3 separate regions of the Homo sapiens genome follow, and all the other regions are linked to region 1. The links come from fine-mapping of genetic effects on gene expression. A gene starts in region 1. Each other region holds a variant in brackets. All regions are shown on one strand. Distances are between the middles of the regions.

Region 1 (2,805 bases):
CTGGTAAACCAACATACTCATGATTTAGTGGAAAGAGCCCTGGAGTGGCACAGAGGGCTGCCTCAATACACACTTACTGAGCGTCTAACAATGAATGGGTCAAGCCCTTCGTAGGCACTGGCAATGGGAAGATGACCAATACAGACGGCTGAACCTTGCTTTCAAGGCCTTCATAAAGCACTGGAGATGACAAACACGGTCCGATACAAAGGGTCGGGTTCAGGACTCCAACCATTATTATCAAAGAGCCACGGGAATACAAAGGAAGGATTACTAGGGGGGAAGTTCCAGGAGGGCATCACAAAGAGACCTCTGAGCTGGATCCAGAAGGACAGATGAGTTTAAGCTGAAAGTGGGGACGGTCGTTCCCGCTGGTGGGAACCGAAGGAGCCGAGGCAGCGCTGAGGCGGAGACCAGGTGGCACCCGCGGCGCTGCAAGGACACACAAGCTGTTGCGAGGGGGTCAACTCTCCGGGCCTTGGCTTAGAAACCTGGGACGATTACACCCTAAAAGCGCTTGGAAAAACTGCAGAACTCGTGCTGATTTTCGCCAAAGCTACTCCCCCGCCGTGAGGGCAGGAAGCCCTGCGAGGCGCCTGCGAGGACGCAAACGCCGCGAAGCAAGTCCTCCACGCCTCCATCCCAGGTTTAGTGAAGTGTAGACTCTGACCCACAGCCTAAAGGAAAGCAAGACCGGAGTCGGGGAGGGCCCCTCCAGGAGCGGGCTCAGCGGGAGTCTGGCCGAACTGCTTGCTGCCACAGTGGTTCCGCGGCCTCGCGCTGAGCGCCATCCGCCGTCTCCCACCGCGGCCCCCACCGCCCCTCCGCAAGGCTCGGCACCTCCCGCCACTTCCTCGGTCGCTGCGGCGGCTCCGGCTCCTCACAGCCGCTAAACCCAGGCCTATTCTGTGTTAGGTCGGGCCTCCTCGGCCCTCTTCGCCGTGACGAATCAGCGCCCGGCTGGGAAAGTATCAAAATTCGGGGAGTTTTGAGGATCCAATGGGTCCTGAAAAAAATCCCTGAGTGTGCTAAGCATCACCGCATCTTCACTAGAAGGTTAGTTTTTCTAAAGAGGGTCGGGTGGGGCCCGGAAAAAAAAAAAAATTAAGAAGAGTGTGGAAAGTGCGAGTGCGGAAGCTCCGGACGCGAGGGGCGGGGCGAGCGCGGGACAAAGGGAAGCGAAGCCGGAGCTGCGGGCGCTTTTTCTGCCCGCGGGTGAGTGTTTCCAAGTGGGACGGACCGGGTCGGTGGGTGCAAGTCGTGGTGTCCCCGCTTGGCTAGACCCCGAGTTCCCGGGGGTTGCTGGGGTTCAGCCTTGGCCGTGGGGCCAGAGCCAGGAGCCGGTTGAGGCCTCCTTGAGGCCTAGCAGAGCGAGGGTTGGGAGGGAGTCCCATCTGGGGCCCCCTCCTTGGAGGCAAGGCCAGTCCCCCGAAATTGGTCAAAGCACCTGTGAATACCCCGTTTTAGGGGAGTTGCTAGTAAAGTACATTCTCCAAGACAAAGAGAGCGACCTCAGGAAGCCGTGGGCAAGGCAGGTCCGTGGTTCACCCCCCACCCGGGCAGAAGGTTCCCCCATTGGTTCAGGCAGCGACTTGAGGACGAGCAGAGCTCTGAAATAGTTTGGCCTGGGTTTGAAACCCAACTTTGGCACTTCCTGGCTGCATATGGCTTCAGACAAGTTGTTTAAACTTTCCGAGACTCCCTTGTTTCATCTGTAAAATGGGGATAGCTGTACATATAAAGTACTTGTGAGTGTTAAGCGAAATAGTGTCATAAGCGTACCCCGTATAAAGTATTTCTTGAACAAATATTTATCGGGTATTTATTTTTATGCCAGGCACCAAAGATGGATCCAACGGTGGACAAATGTACAAGCCCACTCTTAAATTTTGTATTCTAGCAAAAGAGAGCAATAATTTTAAAGTATTAACAATGAAGTATAACGTACAGGGAGCTTATGTTAGTTGTCAGGGTCCCCTGCAGCGAGGCCTGCTGGATGTTGACAGCTCCCTTAATGTGAGCAGAAAGGAAATCTACACCAGAGTCAAAGGTTTCTGGCTGTTCTTTAAGAGGGAAAGACTCAGGTTGGACCATTGAGAAAATGAGCTGTTTCTTTCCACACCAGGACTCATTCCTTATGCTCCAGGGAATTTCCTTAAAATTAATAATAGAAGCGAAAAATCAGATCTATTCCACATGTTTGGTTGCAAATACCTCCAATAGTCATAGAAGTTTATTTGCCTTCTTTCCAAAGATGAATTTTTGTCTTTTTGTACCTCACTATTTGTGATGTATGTTGATGTAAAGAACAAGCTCACATGTGCCTGGTTATGTTGTGAGCTGGTAATACTAGGAAAAAATTTCCTAAGAATTGAGCTAGGTCCTGACATGGTCCCTCTTTCCAAGTAGCATACAATCTAGCCATATTGATAAGTTAAAAAAAAGTTATAATAATATAGATCTGTGTAAACTGTATAGGAATACAGATGGGGGAGCAGTTAATTCTGCCCAGGTAATGTATCAAGAAAGTTCCCTTGAGGAGAAAAATTTTGAAATGGGCTGTGAATGATGAATAAAAGTTTTTCAGGTAGACTCTCAAAATTTATTCCCAGCATTTATGAAGCTATTTACCATTATAAGAGAATGTGAAGTTCATTGTCATACCAATTACCTTTTGCACTGCTTCCAGGAATAAAATGCTGCCTAATTTTAATAAAAATTGTTATCCCAAAAGCATGATACAGTTGCTGATCAGGGAGCTGTCAGTATCTGGTAGGCCTTGTTGCGTTGGACCCTGATAATACA
Region 2 (2,674 bases), 38 kb after region 1:
AAATCAGGAGTCACTGCCACATTCCTCTTCTTCCACTTGCACAGTAGGGCAAATGAAACCTAAGTCCATGCTGGCTATATAAACACAACTTGAAAGGCTCAGTTGTTGAAATTAACAGGAATAAGCATTTTTTCCCTATTGAATCACCTATTGGATCATTCAAAATTCACAGTGGGGCCAGGCACAGTGGCTCATGCCTGTAATCTCAGCATTTAAGGAGGCCAAGGCTGGAGATCACTTGAGCCCAGGAGTTTGAGATAAGCCTGGGCAAAATAGTGAGACCCTATCTCTACAAAAAAAAAAAAAAAAAAAGGATTAGCTGGGCATGGTGGTGAGAGCCTATATTCCCAGCTACTTGGGAGGCTGAGGTGGGAGGATCGCTTGAGCCCAGGAGGTCGAGGCTGCAGTGAGCCGAGATTGCACCACTGCACTCCAGCTGGGGACTTGTGCTCTCTCCCTGCTCTCTCTGCCTCTTCTCTCCCCTAGAAGCCCTCCTGGTCCAACCTGAACTTCTCCTTTAGATCCTTCAGTCTTCAGTGTGAAACAAGGTGAGTCTTTATCACTAAATCCCTTTCTCTTTGTTTTGTTTTACCAATGATTTTTCCTCATCTGGGATAAAGGGTGGGGAAGGAAAGAGGGGAGTGAGGGAAGTGAGTGATGGGAAAAGCAATAATCACTCATCACTAACAGTCACTCATTAAAAAGCAGCATCTCAATTAAAACTATGAAACTATGTTCATCGAGTTCAGTCTCACCCTGCAGAGTCAAATTTTGACTTTCAGTTGCCCCCATCAGGTCTAGTTGAGACTGATTAGTCAGACATAAATCATGGAGCTGGCTCATTCTCAGGACCCTTCAGGACTTCTCAGAAGCAGCAGCACTCTCATGTCCACAGTCTATTTCCCTGACCACCCCCAACACACACAAAAAATTACATCTTCTTATAAGTGTAATCGACCTGATTCTGAGAACTGTTCTCATTGGTTGCAGTTTGCTGAAGTGTAACCAACTACTGTGCCCTTGGAGCTCACATCATTCCCTTCCATGAGGCTGCTACTTCTCCATCCCAGTCTTGGCTAATCAAAACCCCACTCTCCACTGGTTAAACACATTCAATACACCCTTATCATGGACCATGAGGCAGGCATTAAAAGTGATGTTGTGGTAGAAAATTTAATAGTTCATGACATATTTATACTATAAAAATAGTTTACCAAACAACAGGTGTTATAAGTATAAACCCATTTTAAACTGTTTTTTTCATGGACAGATATGGTCATCTCTAAAGGGTTTTTATTTTCCCTCTTGTGCTTTTCAACATTTCACAACATTTTACAATGAGTACTTTTGGGTGTTTTTATGTTTTATTTTTTGAGACAGACAGGGTCTCACTCTGTTGTCCAGTCTGGAGTGCAGTGGCACGATTACAGCTCACTGTAGCCTCAACCTTCTGGGTTGCTCAAGCAATCCTCCCACATCAGTCTCCCAAGTAGCTGAGACCACAGGCATGCACTACTATGCCTGGTTAATTTATGTATTAATTTTTGTACAGACTGGGTCTTCCTATGTTGCCCAAGCTGGTCTCA[A/G]ATTCCTGGGCTCAAGCAATCCTCCTGCCTCTGCCTCCCAAAATGTTGGGATTACAGGCATGAACCACTGCACCTGGCCACAGTGAGTAGTTTTGTAATGGAACAAATGTGAAAAGAAAACATCCTATCTGTTACAGGCTTCATTGTGTCTCCCCACTCAAATTCATACATTGAATTCCTAACCCCCAGTACCTCATAATGGGACTGTATTTGGAGACAAGGCCTTCCTGGAGATAAAGAACACCAGTCATATTGGATTGGGGCCCATGGATATGACCTCATTTTACCTTAATGAAGTCAATGGTGGGCTCTCATCCAATATGACTGGCATCCTTATAGGAAGAGGAGATCGGGGCCGGGTGTGGTGGCTCATGCCTGTAATCCCAGCACTTTGGGAGGCCAAGGTGGGTGGATCACCTGAGGTCAGGAGTTTGAGACCAGCCTGGCCAACAGGGTGAAACCCCATCTCTACTAAAAATACAAAAAATTAGCGGGGCGTGGTGGCACATGCCTGAAATCCCAGCTACTAGGGAGGCTGAGGCAGGAGAATCGCTTGAACCCAGGAGGCAGAGGTTGCAGTGAGCCAAGATCTCGCCATTGCACTCCAGCCTGGATGATAGAACAAGACTCGATCTTGGGGAAAAAAAAAAAAAAGGAAGAGGAGATCAGGACCCAGACAACACAGACCACCACATGAGGACATAGCAAGAAGGTGGCCATCTGCAAGCCACAGAGAGTGTCCTCAGAAGAAACCAGAAGAAACAATGCTGGAAACCCCTTGATCTTGGACTTCTGGCCTCTAGAACTATAAGAAAATAAATGTCTGTTGTTTAAGCCACTGAGTCTGTGGTATTGTTTACAGCAACCCTAGGAAACTAAGATACCACCCATCTTTCAAAGACCAGCTCCAATGCCAGGCCTGCCACGAAACCGCCCATTCCCAAACTTCCCCTCCACCCAGGCTTTTGTGGCTATGGCTTTTGTGTCATTTGGCCTTGTTTAGAGTAACCTTTGCTCACCCTTCTCCCCTGCTAAGCTTCCTAAGAGTGAGGTCTGGGTCTCATTTGTCTTTTTTAATTCCACCACTG
Region 3 (2,805 bases), 21 kb after region 1:
TACAAGACACTTGTGAAAATCAGTTTTCTTACATTATAGTCATTGTCACATATGGAAGTTGGTCTTTGATTCCAAAAGTAAAGGGAATATGTTTCTACATTAACAGGAATATGGAGAAATCTGTAACGTTTGAATTATCTTTGAAAGAATGGCTAAATGATAAATGTTAAGTCCTGTGCCTATATGGAGAGGACTCTGTACCAGCATGAGTTAATTTAAGTGGATTCACTGCTATTCAGTTCATAGCACATTAGTGACTAGGAATGTGTGTTCAGCCTCCTGAGAGAGGAGGGGAGGAAGCTTGATACTGGGTGGAAACAACTCTTGACATCTGTTTCCTTGTGTGTCAAAGAACGAATTTGTATCAAATAGATCTGTTTTGAGCTTTGGCCATTATTTGGCTAAGAACTTCAGCCATCTCATCTCAGACAAATTGGACAGCCTCTTTGATACATTTTCTAGTAGTCAAAATGGGGCAGATGTAGTTTAATATGGGTGGAAAACTGCCCCAGCAAGATACCAGGTTATTTACTGTGGTATCGAAAGCTCTAAGAGAATGGAAGTGGTTCTTTTGCCCGGCTGGAAATAGCAGTGGGAAGACAAGTCTATCCAGACCAAGCCTGTCCATACAACACTGGCAATCAGTTGATGAGGGAATTAAGTCAGATGGGAGACGTCTCAATCTGTCGCCCAGGTTGGAGTGCAGTGGTGGCGATCTCAGCTCACTGCAACCTCCACCTCCCAGGTTCAAGCAATTCTCTCTGCCTCAGCCTCTAGAGCAGCTGGGATTACAGGCTCTCGCCACCATGCCCGGTTAATTTTTGTATTTTTTAGTAGAGATGGGGTTTCACCATGTTAGCCAGGCTGATCTTGAACTCGTGACCTCAGGTGATCCGCCTGCCTCAGTCTCCCAAAGTGCTGGGATTACAGGCGTGAGCCACTGTGCCCGGCCTCAGTTGGGATTTGACAGCTCTGAACCTCAGCAGGGGAAGATTGATGTAAAAATCCACTTGGTCAGAGTGATATATGTAGACTTGATGTTTGAGATGGTTCTCAGTTTAGAGAATGTGGGATATGGTAGAGGTCTTTGTTTTTTTCCCATGTCCCAAAAGGTGCTGGGCAAGTAGCTTGAACTCGAGCCTGTTTTAATTATAAAATAGATCAAACTGCTCTTTCTTGGTGCCCTTACTGCTCCTTGATTTTTAGTGCATTTATTTTGAGTATGAATGCATAAAGTCTGAGGGCCTAAATTTTGTTAATTTTTTTTAACAAATGGGAGAGGGGAATCCTCGATAGTCACCCAATTTTCCTTTTTTTTTGAGACAGTCTGACTGTTGCCCAGGCTGGAGTGTAATGGCGCCATCTCGGCTCACTGCAACATCCAGCTCCTGGGTTTCAGCAATTCTCCTGCCTCAGCCTCCTGAGTAGCTGGGATTACAGGCGCCCGCCA[C/T]CACGCCCGGCTAATTTTTGTATTTTTAGTAGAGACAGGATTTTGCCATGTTTGCCAGCCTGGTCTCGAACTCTTGACCTCCTGATCCACCCTCCTCTGCCTCCCAAAGTGCTGGGATTACAGGCGTGAGCCACCGCGCCCAGCCCCATAGTCCCCCAATTTTCTAACAGTTTTAAATTCTGTAACTTCTCCTGTCTGTAAACAAGGCTGTCTTTTCAAATGGCTCTCCTACAGGATGTGATAATTATCTATTCTATAAAGCCGAGGTTTGGAGAGGTAAATAGCTATTTCACATTAACACAATAATGTCAATGCCCTATGGAAAAGATAAAATACTTGGACTATATTTTAAAGGGGAATCTGGGGTCATGCATATTGAAGTTTAACTAGATCCCTCCAGATTTTTGGTTTTGATCCTACACATTTAGATACTAGTTTTGGATTTTAGACAGTTGGTGCTGACAGTGTGAAACTCCTATTGCCTGCAGTTAAATTGAAGCTTTGGTTTCTCGTGAACAGGCAGTGAAGCTGGTATTATACTTTAAGTCCTCATTTCAGAAATAGTTTCCCTCCACCCCCAAGCACTACCACACATGGTCTCCCCACCTGGTTTCAGCTAGTGCATTAGTTTTATCTTGTTTTTTACCGCTGGGCAAACCTTGCTGGAACAACAACTGACTTCATGATTTGCACATTTGGAGGGCTTAACGTCTTTGCAAATGAAAAATCCACTGTACAATAACAAGCTCAAAGGAACTCGGAGCCTTTTTAGAAGAAATCGTGCTGAATTATAATGTGGCTTACTGCAATAATGTTTCTTTGATCAGGATGGAAAGGAAAATACTGAGTTTAGCAGAAAACGATGTCTAAATGTATTTGTAATGATACAATTGTTTATAAATGTTTTACTATTAGGTTGAACCATAAGAAATTGCCAGTGTACAATTTCATCTACAAAATGACTGGCTTAACCTAAATTCTGCATTTTATACTCCAAGAATAAGCTCTTCGTGGCAGCTTTCTAAGTGTGAAATGATGGAACTTTCTATTTGCCAGAATGACCTACACTTCTCTAATAGTTTATCTCATATTGTTAGCCAAACGCTGATTAAAATGCAAATTTCAAACTATTGAGTTTTTAAGAGCCTGATGTTTAAAATACATTTTGGTGAACTTTTAGTTAAACTAGCTCATTTATGTTCACACATTTTCTCATTTAGCACCAGAAAGTTTCTTACAGCTCTTTTGCATGCATTCAGGAGTCAAAAGTATTATATGGGGAGGGGAAATTCCCAAATGATAAATACTCTTTACATAAAACTGAGACAGTAGCTGCAGATAATGGCTCCCTTTGA

Which allele goes with the higher level. Alleles are on the strand shown, and positions count from the first base shown. SD is a standard deviation of normalised expression in the study named. Not every link is listed here.
With allele G in place of A in region 2, the expression in hypothalamus of the gene that starts at base 1,170 in region 1 is higher (moderate effect, 0.52 SD a copy in GTEx).

Evidence for each region.
Region 2: its variant is fine-mapped to the expression of SMARCE1 in hypothalamus (GTEx, PIP 0.99).
Region 3: its variant is fine-mapped to the expression of SMARCE1 in whole blood (TOPMed, PIP above 0.99). The same link has a PIP of 0.9 or more in blood mononuclear cells and monocytes.

What each region holds. Positions count from the first base shown.
Region 1 is chr17:40,646,183-40,648,987 of GRCh38, reverse strand. SMARCE1 (SWI/SNF related BAF chromatin remodeling complex subunit E1) reads left to right here and starts at 1,170. Exons shown (of 11, transcript NM_003079.5): 1 at 1,170-1,215. RefSeq lists a silencer at 637-931.
Region 2 is chr17:40,608,681-40,611,354 of GRCh38, reverse strand. No RefSeq gene overlaps it. Among named protein-coding and RNA genes, the nearest start is that of SMARCE1, 38 kb to the left of the region's middle. The variant A/G (reference allele first, on the strand shown) is at 1,587.
Region 3 is chr17:40,624,737-40,627,541 of GRCh38, reverse strand. SMARCE1 (SWI/SNF related BAF chromatin remodeling complex subunit E1) reads left to right here. Exons shown (of 11, transcript NM_003079.5): 11 at 1-2,580. Among named protein-coding and RNA genes, the nearest start is that of SMARCE1, 22 kb to the left of the region's middle. The variant C/T (reference allele first, on the strand shown) is at 1,451.